3 separate regions of the Homo sapiens genome follow, and regions 2 and 3 are each linked to region 1. The links come from fine-mapping of genetic effects on gene expression. A gene starts in region 1. Each other region holds a variant in brackets. All regions are shown on one strand. Distances are between the middles of the regions. Region 1 holds the start of CPNE4 (copine 4). Region 2 overlaps CPNE4 (copine 4). Region 3 holds the start of LOC105374113 (a long non-coding RNA gene).

What was found. PIP is the estimated chance that this variant, and not a neighbour inherited with it, causes the effect.
Region 2: its variant is the best candidate, but not a certain one, in a credible set for the expression of CPNE4 in aorta (GTEx, PIP 0.57).
Region 3: its variant is the best candidate, but not a certain one, in a credible set for the expression of CPNE4 in left ventricle (GTEx, PIP 0.86).

What each region holds. Positions count from the first base shown.
Region 1 is chr3:132,032,638-132,036,878 of GRCh38, reverse strand. CPNE4 (copine 4) reads left to right here and starts at 1,865. Exons shown (of 16, transcript NM_130808.3): 1 at 1,865-2,312. RefSeq lists a silencer at 1,641-1,740 and an enhancer at 2,116-2,285.
Region 2 is chr3:131,961,482-131,965,722 of GRCh38, reverse strand. The region is part of intron 1 of CPNE4 (copine 4); the gene reads left to right. Among named protein-coding and RNA genes, the nearest start is that of MIR5704, 22 kb to the left of the region's middle. The variant C/T (reference allele first, on the strand shown) is at 1,914.
Region 3 is chr3:131,802,613-131,806,853 of GRCh38, reverse strand. All of the region lies in intron 2 of CPNE4 (copine 4), which reads left to right. It overlaps LOC105374113 (a long non-coding RNA gene), which reads right to left and starts at 4,044. Exons shown (of 7, transcript XR_007096089.1): 1 at 3,963-4,044; 2 at 3,352-3,457. The variant C/T (reference allele first, on the strand shown) is at 2,241.

The DNA.
Region 1 (4,241 bases):
TACATGCTCAGCACATCTTAATTCCTTTTCTCTCACCTGTAATATAAGAAGTTTATGTTGAATGGTCCCTAAGGTATTTATATTATTTTTAATTTTATAAATGTAGAAGGTGGTAGACACCTTTCTAGGCATTGGGGTTATAATTATGAACAAGACGACAAAACAGACATATCCCTTGCCTTCATAGAAATTAAATTTTAGAGGATACAATTAACATGCAAGGAAATGCACAATGACTTTTCCTTCTTCTTCCTTCATCTTTGCAAGTTCAATCCAATTCAAATTTTGAGTTTATCTCTGAGGCTACCTCTTAACAAAACCTGGAAGTAATGTTTTTGGACTTAACATTTTCATATTTAGTAGTCATACACTGGTTTTGCCTGCTTAGCATCCGTCTCCCCTTTCCTGGTAGGAGGACCCTGAATATCCCTTGGAGAATTGTCCCTGTGTCTCACTCGCAATGTGTGTAGATCAGGTGGGGCTCCATCCTGGCTCCAGGAGTGCTATAGAAGACATCACATGCTCCTAGACATTGTGGAAGTCCTGGCCCATTAGTGTAATTCCATATCCAAAGGTCACAACGATTGACTTATGCATAGCCATGTGACCCAAGTTTTTGCAATCAAAGCAAATCCAAGGATTTCTGTGGTAGTTTCAGTGTACAGAGAAGCTCCCTGAGGTCCTTTCCAGGGTCCATGTTTAGTGTTATCCTATTTCAGAAAGGCTTTAGAGGTGACTGAAAGAAGAAAAATGTTATTTGTGTTCTGTCAGAAGGTTGTCCCTTTGTTTATCAAAGATATTTCTGTCTACTTCTATAGAACAATTAAGAGGGGGTCTTCCTCCTTACCCTATTGGTTCTCCTTTTCTGGACTTTGAAATTGAGAACTTCATGGTTAGTGAAAAGATTTTGGCTAATATCTCCTCCAACCTTCAGGTTGGAGAGGCTTTGTTAGATAGCCCCTTAATAGGGTGAGAAGGAAGACCTTCCATCTCCCCTCCACGTTAGATGTAACACACTCTATACCATCCCAATGTCAGAAAGAGACCGTCATTCACTTTACTTCATTAATTCCAAAGTCCAATTTGTGAGTCTGACAATACCAATGTGCAGAGAGAATTTAGTTGTCTAGTTTGTCTATGGTAGCAGACATAATCAGAAACAATGCCCTGTATTTGAATAAGTTCATTTGTCTGAATTTGAATAAGTTTGAAATAGGAAGGCCATACTTTCTCTCTAAAGTGCTTTAAAACATGTGGAAGTGGTCACCCCTTACATAAGACAGCATATTTATATCTATCTTTAAGCATAAGTACTCCCTAAGTATTTCTTTATCTTATTTGTGAGGTAGATGTATTCAGAAACTCATCATGAGATGAAGAAAATACTCTTTGTCCATTAATTTACTCATGCATTACTTACTAAAAATAATTTCCAGGCTCCTGCCATACGCCAGACAGTTTTGTAGACACGAAGGATCCAGAGATTAGCAACACCTTTACCATTTTTGGTGACAGTTAAGCACCCATCTAAGAAGTTTTCTTTGGTGAGTGCCAAAAAGTGTAACTCCCATTCCCCCCACACCCGCGCCGCGATACGACCGCTCCACCCTAGAGTGGAGATGGAGACCAAGCACTTGGAGATCTAAATCAAGTGTCCCCAGGAGCTCAGTTGAGCGACAAAGCTGAGCAGAAAGCCCAGACTGCGGGCGCGGCAGGACCACGGAGAGCGCCGCCGCCAAGGCCTGGGCGGGGCCTGAGCTCGGGTTCCCGGGGCAATGCTCGTCTCCGTCAGCAACCCCCAGGGGGCGCTCGCGCGGAGGTTTCGGAACCAGTCTCTTGCCGGGTTGCTGGGTGCATGGGATTCGTCAGAAGGTGGAAATCTCTCTGTGAGAAGCTGCCATCTCCCCGCCACCCGCTCGTCCCCTTCTCTTTCTGCCACCCTCCTTTCCTTCCTCCCTCGCTCCACTCCACTCCCTCCCTCTTTTCTCAGTACCCTCCTCTTTACTCTCCGAGTTAACTGAGAGCCGACCTGACATCTCCAACATTTTCACCCTCTTCCCCCACCCCCATCACCGAGAATGGAGTCAGGGTTTCCGGAGAGACCGAACTCTGCTCTCAGCACCTTTCCCAGCCGCTGTTGCTAAACTGACCTCGGAGGACGAGAGGGGAAGGAGGTGCGACGCCCCTTACATCAGTACAAAACTACCACACCAACCACCTCCACTTCAAAGCCGGATTTTGCATCCTGGGGGCGGGACAGACCTCGTCCCGGGCTGAATTCTCTCTCCACTCTTCGAGATTGGCACACCCAGGTAAGTAAATGCCAACTCTTCATTCCTGTGTTCCTGGGGCGCTGTGATTGCAAAGTCTGTTGGAGCTGCTGCGTAGCAAGACCAACTTTTGAGATGCACTGGTTCTCGCTCACCTTTGCACGTTTGTCATTGCTGTTGTTGTTTTAAAAAGCAGCAGCAAGCAACGTCTTTAATCTGAAGGGACTTCCATCCCCTACCTCTCGCCTTCTGACATCCACCCAACTCGCCCAGGTGGGGTGGGGCGAATGGAGTTGGGGAGAAAGACCGCGGAGGGGAGGGGACAGCATGGCACGGGTGAGGGATAGGTCAGGGAAGTCCCGAAGGCGGAAGAAGGGGTACGGTTTTCAAAATCGGGGAAGGGGAGGGGAAGGGAGTTCTGGCTGAAGTTGCAGCTTCCTCTCTGACAGTGAGAAAGCTGTGGGACATTGTAGTCCCTTCCAATGGCTTGACCTGGCTGCGGTTGGATTCAGCCTCTCAACCTCCTCCCCCACACTTCTTACAATGAGGTTCTAATAATATTTTAGTTGCCTCTTCTCAGTGTTAAAAACTAATGAATAGGCTTGCAAGTGCTTTGATTCAACGTAGTCCTTCAGCGCTTCTTCCTCTATGGAATAAAGTAGCCAGAAGGAAAGGGGGACGGGGACAGGGGACGGGACTGGAGGGACCACTGAAACCAAGCCACAGCTGAGTAAGGAGATCACGACCCCGCGTGGTATCACAGACACACGAGAACTGTTAGGGCTGAATCCAATGGAGATAATTAGGAGGTGGTCCACGCCAAGTCAAGCGAGTGCTGATTACCATCCGGTGAGGAGCAGGCTAAACCCTGATGAAAAATGCTCCTCCTTCATCTTGGAGTAGGTGGGCTTTAAGGCCCTATTTCCCATTCTATGTTCCAAATCTGACGGCGCCCCAGGGCGCCTTGGCGGATTGCCTTTCAGCCCCAGAACCTGCTAGGCTCCAGGGAAAGTCACAGGCGGCAGAGATGATCCAAGGGGCGCAAATCTATGAAGGGCTTGATGTGGGTGGTTGGGAAGTGGAGGGGGGAAAGGTGAGCAGAGTGAGGCGGGAGGGGGCTAGGGAAGCGAGAGTGCTCTGGGAAGCTTTGCAAGAGAGACATCTGAGAACCTCTCCCTCTACACACACACACACACACACACAGACACACACACACACTCACACACTCTCACAGGATTTCAGTGACTTGTGGGAAAAGATGCCTCAGCACCTTTACACCCTGTGTTCAAAACTATGCAAAACCAACTCTTCATCCTCTTGCTGCTTTGCCAGGGATTTTAAAAGCACTGTTCTGGTTTTTCTTGGCTCACTTGGTTTTGTTTCCTGAACAGCACTTTTGAGCTGTCCAAGATACTTTAATATGTTATCTTTAAATGAAACTAAATCCTGCTCATTCGCGCGCCCCCGCGCGCACACATACACAGGCGTACACAATTACCTTAACTTCAAATAAAGTGTTCTTTTCTCCATACTCTTCTATTCCCTTAACAATCCCTGTTCTCAAAGGCCTTTGTGTTTTATTTTCTGCTTTATAACAAAACAAAAAAACAAACACCCACCGTCCTATGACACAGGTGTTTTGAATCCATGTCAATTTTTGTAGTTAGTATATGCTGGTTAAACCACATAGCATATCCCCCAAAAAGCCAGAGGCAAGCAAAAACTTAATTTGATGCCCTTCAAGTTTCGGAAGGTCCCATTTCTTTTTATTAACCAAAAGATAAGATGAAGCTCAGCATGGCTATGGCTGTGATTAGATAACTTCTGATATTTTCATTTCCCTTACCGAGCTGCTGCTTCTAGGCTGAACTCATTCACCTGCCCATTTTTAAAGAGAGACTGACAAAGTCACTCTGGCAGGTCAGGACTCAGAGTTAGTCAAAAGTTCTCACATGTAGAGAGGTGCATAAA
Region 2 (4,241 bases), 71 kb after region 1:
TTATGAATCTGGGTGCCCCTGTATTGGGTGCATATATATTTAGGATAGTTAGCTCTTCTTGTTGCATTGATCCCTTTACCATTATGTAATGCCCTTCTTTGTCTTTTTTGATCTTTGTTGGTTTAAAGTCTGTTTTATCAGAGACTAGCATTGCAAATCCTGATGTTTTTTGTTTTCCATTTGCTTAGTAAATATTCCTCCATCCTTTTATTTTGAGCCTATGTGTGTCTTTGCATGTGAGATGGGTCTCCTGAATACAGCACACCAGTGGGTCTTGATTCTTTATCCAATTTTCCACTCTGTGTCTTTTAATTGGGGCATTTAGCCCATTTACATTTAAGGTTAATATTGTTATGTGTGAATTTGATCTTGTCATCATGATACTAGCTGGTTATTTTGCACATTAGTTGATGCAGTTTCTTCATAGTGTTGTTGGTCTTTATATTTTGGAATGCTTTTGCAGTGGCTGGTACTGTTTTTTCTTTTCCATATTTAGTGCTTCCTTCAGGAGCTCTTGTAAGGCAGGCCTGGTGGTGACAAAATCCTTCAGCATTTCCTTGTCTGTAAAGGATTTTATTTCTCCTTTGTGTATGAAGCTTAGTTTGGCTAGATATGAAATTCTGGGTTGAAAATTCTTTTCTTTAAGAATGTTGAATATTGGCCCCCACTCTCTTCCAGCTTGTAGGGTTTCTGCAGAGAGATCCACTGTTAGTCTGATGGGCTTCCCTTTATAGGTAACCTTACCTTTCTCTCTGGCTGCCCTTAACATTTTTTCCTTCATTTCAACCTTGGAGAATCTGATGATTATGTGCCTTGGGGTTGCTCTTCTCAAGGAGTATCTTAGTGAGGTTCTTTGTATTTCCTGAATTTGAATGTTGGCCTGTCTTGCTAGGTTGGGGATGTTCTCCTAGACAATATCCTGAAGTATATTTTCCGACTTGGTTCCATTCTCCTCATCACTTTCAGATACACCAATCAATTGTAGGTTTGGTTTTTTCACATAGTCCCATATTTCTTGGAGGCTTTTCTTGTTCCTTTTCATTCTTTTTTCCCTAATCTTGTCTTTACCCTTTATGCCATTGAGTTGATCTTCAATCTCTGATATCCTTTCTTCTGCTTGATTGATTCAGCTATTGATGCTCGTGTATGCTTCACAAAGTTCTCATGCTGTGTTTTTCAGCTCCATCAGGTCATTTATGTTCTTCTCTAAACTGGTTATTCTAGTTAGCAGTTCCTGTAACCTTTTATCAAGGTTCTTAGCTTCCTTGGATTGGGTTAGAATATGCTCCTTTAGCTCAGAGGAGTTTGTTATTACCTGCCTTCTGAAGCCTACTTCTGTCAATTTGTCAAACTTATTCTCCATCCAGTTTTGTGCCCTTGCTGGAGAGGAGTTGCGATCATTTGGAGGAGATAAGGCATTCTGGTTTTTGGAATTTTCAGCATTTTTGGACCAGTTTTTCCTCATCTTTGTGGATTTATCTACCTTTGATCTTTGATGCTGATGGCCTTTGGATGGGGTTTTTGAGTGGGTGTCCTTTTTGTTGATGTTGATATTATTGCTTTCTGTTTGTTAGTTTTTCTTCTAACAGGCCCCTCTGCTGCAGGTCTGCTGAAGTTTGCTGGAGGCCCACTCCAGACCCTGTTTGCCTGGGTATCACCAGTGGAGGCTGCAGAGCAGCAAAGATTGCTGCCTGCTCCTTCCCTGGAAGCTTTGTCCTAGAGGGGCACCCACCAGATGCCAGCCAGAGCTCTTCTGTATGAGGTGCCTGTCAACCCCTGCTAGGAGATATCTCCTAGTAAGGAGGCACGGGTGTCAGGGACCCACTTAAGGAGGCAGTCTGTCCCTTAGCAGAGCTTTGCTGTGAGATTCTCTGCTCTCTTCAGAGCCAGCAGGCAGGAATATTTAAGTCTGC[C/T]GTAGTGCCAACAGCTGCTCCTTCCCCCAGCTGCTCTGTCCCAGGGAGATGGGAGTTTTATCTATAAGCCCGTGACTGGAGCTGCTGCCTTTCTTTCAGAGATGCCCTGCCCAGTGAAGAGGAATCTAGAGAGGCAGCCTGGCCACAGCCGCTTCGCTGCCCTGCGGTGAGTTTTGCCGAACTTCCCGGCAGCTTGCTTAACACTGTGAGTGGAAAACCACCTACTCAAGCCTCAGTAATGGTGGATGCCCCTCCCCCTACCAAGCTCAAGCATCCCAGGTCGACTTCAGACTGCTTTGCTGGCAGTGAGAATTTCAAGCCAGTGGTTCTCAGTTTTCTGGGATCTGTGGGACTGGGACCCACTGAGTGAGACCACTTGGCTCCCTGGCTTCAGCTCCCTTTCCAAGGGAGTGAACGGTTCTGTCTCGCTGGGGTTGCAGGTGCCACTGGGGTATGAAAAAAAAAAACTGCAGCTAGCTCAGTGTCTGCCCAAACAGCTGCCTAGTTTTGTGCTTGAAACCCAGGGCCCTGGTGGTGTAGGCAAGTGAGGGAATCCCCTGGTCTGTGGGTTGTAAAAACCATGGGGGAAGCATAGTATCTGGGACAGATAGGACAGTCCCTCATGGCTTCCCTTTGGCTGAGGGAGGGGGGCTCCCCCAGCTCCTTGCACTTCCCGGGTGAGGCAACGCCCTACCCTGCTTCTGCTTGCCCTACATGGGCTGCACCCACTGTCTAACCAGTCCCAATCAGATGAACCGGGTACCTCTGTTGGAAATGCGGATATCACCTGCCTTCTGCATTGGTCTCACTGGGAGCTGCAGACCGGAACTGTTCCTATTTGACCATCTTGCCAGGAGTCCAAAAGCTTTGCCATTACTTTTAATGAGAGAGGATTCTTTTTATATAGCAAATAACAAAATGTTGGAACTTGTTCAGGTATAAATATTTATTATTCTAAGCAGGGTGTAGGGCAATATAGAACAACATTTTTTTTTTGAATCAGGGACTTTTTAAGAATCTGCTGAAAGCCATTTTCTCTCTCAGGAAAACGTATTTACTCACTGGATTTTTTTTTTAACTGTTTCTGGGGTTCCACAGATGCATTTCTCCACTGGAAGTCCATCTATTTGTTTAGGATTTCATGGTTTAGATAAATATTCAATTATAAATGTTTAAGTTCTTATAACAGTACTTGCCACATATTAAGTGCTCAATAAATGTTGTTGAATGAATGGAAAGGGGAGGAAGGAACATTCAAGATATAGTTCTAGTCTTCTCTAATCCTGTAAGGAGTCCAGTCTATGCTCTTTGTGTATGGCTGTGACTCAGAAGGATGGTCTTTGTTTTGTTCTGGAGTGTCTGAGCACATTTTTGTTGTGGTGGTGGTGCATTGCATGTGAACTGGGCCTTGAGAGAAGTTCAAATACTGAGTGAAAATAAAGTAATGGTCTGATTATAACTGTCAGATCGGGTGGTTAGACTGGTTCCTGAAACATAACCAATTCCAAGGCAAAAGAAAAGACATCTCTTCATCTACCCTTGACTTAGCACCTGCTGAATAGTAGGCACTTGTTAGGCATCGAGGAAATAGATATTAGCTGTAATGGAAGCATGGACAACTTGCTATGGGATCATAGAAAAAGGCAGGGCCTCGAGGAGCAAATAGGAGTTTGTCAGGTTAGAAGGGGAGTCTACTCAAAGGGGAACAGCAAAGGTCTGGGCAATTGAATATGCATGGAATTCTGAGCATTTCAAACAATCTAGTACTTTTTTAGGCACTCAAAAATGTTGGCTAGGTGAATGCATGAATGACCATTAAATGAGATGATCTAGATATGGCCAGATGGGATAGAGATAACGTTGAGAAACGTTTGGAAGTAGAATGGGTATGACTTGGTGATATGTATGCAGTAGCAGATCTGGATCTGAGTAGGGAAAAGGGAGAAGGGAGAGAGATAAACAGAAAATTGTTTTTTGATATTTGGTATGTGTGACTCTTGGTGATGTCACCTATGTTGTCTCTACCCTTTCACCTGCTAGTCTGTCTTTAAGGTCATTTTTTGAGGATTGTAATGTGGGACCATGAGCCCCCTTCAATCCTGTATGTTCTATCTTTAGTCCTCTAGGTGTGGATCTTAAGAGTCAGGAATAGACAACAGAGCAGGGATAGGAGAGTACTTTCAGAGAAACAGAACATGCTTGTTTGTAAGGGGGTAATATATTGGATGAATATTTCAGTGGCTGTTTCTTTTCAACCATACATCCTGACTGACCATTCGGGTCACAGAAAATGCTGTATCTTAGCACAGTCACCCTGTGTGTGGCTCA
Region 3 (4,241 bases), 230 kb after region 1:
TTTTTCGAAACAAATCCAGGAAGACTTTTGTGACATTCATTCTTCCTTTCATGCTACCACCTCGTTCTCCAGAGGCAAGGGACATGGAGTGACCACATGTTAGAAACCAGAGCAAGAAAATGAGGGAATAGCTTTGTTGTAGTTTGTGGCTTCTAAAAGTGCCTAAGAGATATTTTTAAATAAAATTTTCACTTTTTCCCTACACTTGTGTCTTAACATCTGCTGACCAAGTTTATTGTGTTTTCTTGCTCCAGGCTGACAACTATAAAAATTGTTCCTATTTCTTTTTTTTTTTTTTTTTTTTGAGACGGAGTCTCACTCTGTCACCCAGGCTGGAGTGCAGTGGCACAATCTCGGCTCACTGCAAGCACCGCCTCCCGGGTTCATGCCATTCTCCTGCCTCAGCCTCCAGAGTAGCTGGGATTACAGGCGCCCGCCACTATGCCCGGCTAATTTTTTGTATTTTTAGTAGAGACAGGGTTTCACCATGTTAGCCAGGATGGTCTCGATCTCCTGACCTCATGATCTACCCGCCTCGGGCTCCCAAAGTGCTGGGATTACAGGCATGAGCCACCGCGCCTGGCCAATATTTTAATTTTATGTTCTAATTAATATTTAAGGCAAAGTTCATATTTTAAATTAAATATCATTTAGTTGTATGAGGAAGGATGGCTTCCAGCCAACAAAAACGTTCTCCTTAACTTCCCAGATACTTTTAGGAAGACTCAGATAAAGTTTCAAGCATCCAGTTATATTTAAGACCTGCCTGAATATGGCTGCACAGTATCTAATATCTAAGTTATTCACTAGCATGGTTCTAGCTGCATGTTAATAAAAGTAAAATGACTGGAATTTCATGATTTCCGATTATTTATATGTACATCTGGAAGATTTTATTTCCCAAAGAAGGCTGCAATAATACATTTTATTCCACATGCTCCTCTTAAAATGTGACCTTTCCACATTCATAGATATGACAGGCAGAGTCTATTTCTCTTTTTCCTGGACTTGGGCATATCTTTGTGACTGCCTCAACCAGTAGGGCACAGTGGAAGTGTCACTATATAACTCGTGAGGCAATGAAAGAGCTGCACCTTCTCCCTAGATCTGTCTTAGAACACTTGCTTTTGGTACCCAGTCACTACCATCTCACACCCAGCTGTGAGGAATCCCAGGTTACATGAAGAAACCATTTTTATAGGTGTTCTGGCTGACAGCCGGCATCACCCAGCAGACATGTGAGGGAGGCAGTCTTCAAGATGACTCCAGTCCCTGTTAATGTCTAGTTGCAACTTCATGAGAGACTCTGAGTGAGAATCATTTAGCTGAGCCTACCCAATACCCAGACTGTATGAGATAATAATAAATGAGGATCGAATTTGTTTAATACCTTTAAATTTGTTGTTTTGTAGACAGGTATAACTAGAACAGCACATTGGACCAAAAACAACCCTGAATTCGAAGTGTCAAAATTGTTGAAATCACTGGCTTGTGGTTTCACTGATACTAAATTTTTCCATCCATCTCTTTATCTTGCCACAAACATGGGAAGCACGAGAGCTCCCTATCTCATACATCTGCAAAATTGTACTTTACACTAGCTATCCAAAATAATGTATCTTTCCAGGGCACCAAGGAGAGCAAGCGATGGCCTTCCCAGGGAAAAACACATCTTTCAGTTTTGCAGCAGGTAGTGTATGATTCATACATGGGCTGATTGGATGGGAATGAGGAGAGAAAAATCACAGAATGGGCAATAAGAATTCTGTTGGTTTGACTCAAGGCAAATGAATCTGGGAGTACTCAGGATAGTGCTCATTTTGGAATTTAGTCTGCTTGTGACTATTTCCCTTAAATAATAAACCATTCAAAACCTAGTGGCTTAAAAACACCATTTCTTTAACTCACTATTATGTGAGTCAGCAATTTATGCTGTGCTTAGTTGGGCAGTTATTCTGGTCTCAGATGGACTTTCTCATGTGTCTGTGCCCAACTGCAGATAAGGCCTCGCTGATGACAAGGGCAAATGGGAAGACTGGGCCACATGTCACTTGTTCTCTATCAGGTTAGCCTGAGCTTAGTCACATGGCAGTGGAATAGTTCCAAGAGAAAGAGCAGAAGCATTTAAGCCTCTTCTGGCCTTGGTTTAGAACAGGCACGCTGCCACTTCTACCACATCCCATTGGCTGAAGCAAGTTACAAGGCCAGCCCAATACAAGGGATGGGGAAATACACGATAC[C/T]TTTTCAGCAGATGAATTGAAAGTCACATTGTAAAGGATGTAGAACACAGGAAAAGGTAAAAGAAAACCATTTTTGTGATCATTTAGCCCTTGTTTTGGTTTATTATTGTGCTAGTCCTACAGATCAGGTTATATAAAGCAGTCTGATATGAAGTAAAAACAGCTGGATTCTAGGCATTTATTCACAAGGCTCGAGTCATACCTCGGGAAGATATAACTAGGTTTGTGAGTAGTTCACATATTCTATAGATATTTATAATTTGTATTTTTTAATACTTGCCAGCTGCTTGACATTAACATTTTCCCTGTAGTGTCCCAATTTCTTGTGTCTGAAATCATACGGGTTCTGCTTATAGCAGACAAACTGAGTTCCACCGAGATATACAGGTTGGTAATGATTAAACCAGTGTGAATGAATAGGGAGGAGAAAAGTTTCAGAACTTCTACCTGATAGTTGAATCAGAGAATCACAAATGTTCAGTGGTAAAAGAGAATTTCAACTAACCCCTTTAACTCTGATGGGATGGATTAATCAATAATGATTTGTGTGTATTAGAGAGGGAGAGAGAGAGACTAATTGACTCTAGATATTTATAGGCACACAAGAGATAAGGTGAGAAAAATAATTAAGATGTATTGATTTATTGTGCTTGTAACTAGACTTTATAAACTCAGATGCTCAGAGATGGAGTCAAACCTTAATAAGAACTTTAATTTCTCATTTAGTAAGAGATTAGTCTTTACGGTTTTCCACTCTTCCTGACCACCATTTTGATCACTGCTTAATGTTCCAGCAATTAGAGGTACGTAATTTACTTAACCATTTCCCCGTTGTTAAATACTAATATTGTCACTAGTTCCTTATGTTTACAAATAGTGCTGCAATAAACATTTCTGAGCACAGCATGTTCTCCTCAGCTTGGGTATGAGCTTCACAAGGGCAGAGAGTTGTCTAAAGTATGGGTTTTCAGTGGCTAGAACAGTGCCTGGCACAAAGTAGGTGCCTAACAACATTTTAAAATATCTTTTGAACAGATAGAGTTGTCCTCATATTTTAAATTCTTTACTCAGGAGAGAGTCCCAGATGTCTATGCCTTCAGAGTATTCTTACCTGAATATCTCATTTGAGGAGAACAAATCACATACACAGTTTGTCTTCAATGTAGAAAAACTTGATAGAGACAGTTAGCAGCAAAACTTCCTTTTGCTTTTGTTCTCTAGAAAGAGATAACAAACTAAATGAGTAGGACTGACTGTATTAGAAAGCTGGACAGAGAAAGGGAAGAGAGTTAGCATTTCCTGTTTTCTGCTATATGCCAGGCACTGTGCTAAATATGATACTGGCAACATCTCATGTCATCCTCACAGATGTGGGTGCAATCATAACCATACTCAAATGAAAATTCATCCCTCTAGGACATTATGTAATTTGTCGAATTCCAAGGTTATCCACCTGGCTAATGGTAGAGCCAGGATTTGAATTCAAACATTTCTGGCTTCAAAGCATTTCTTCTTCGTCTTTTTATTTATTTTTGTAACCTTTCACTACCTCCCTGGAAACTGAATTGGATAGATAACTTAGAAAATCCTCCAACAAACTAACCTTAAAATTTTCTAATTCCAGTCCTGAGTCCATACAGGTTTTCCATCTGAGGCCAGAATGCTAAAACCCAAGGCATTAAAGTGCCAATTTAGGGAAGATTGTCTCTGTGGGTTGCTGACCTGCTCTGCAGTGACTTTCAGCTTTGCTTTATCATGACCTGGTCCCTCTTTGAAGATTGTCAGGAGAAAAGCAGCATCTTTCTCTATGTCCATAAAATATACTGTTTTCAATGATTCAGTTTTGAGCTCTCAGCCACATTAACAGGTTTTCAGGGGGAGATTCCAGGGTTTCCCTCCGTGAACATTTTGTGCTTTGAGGATGATGCTAAGGGTCTCAGCTTAGATGTCTGTATTTTGATGTCATTTACAGCCTTGCTGTGAGAAATTCAGTGCATTGTG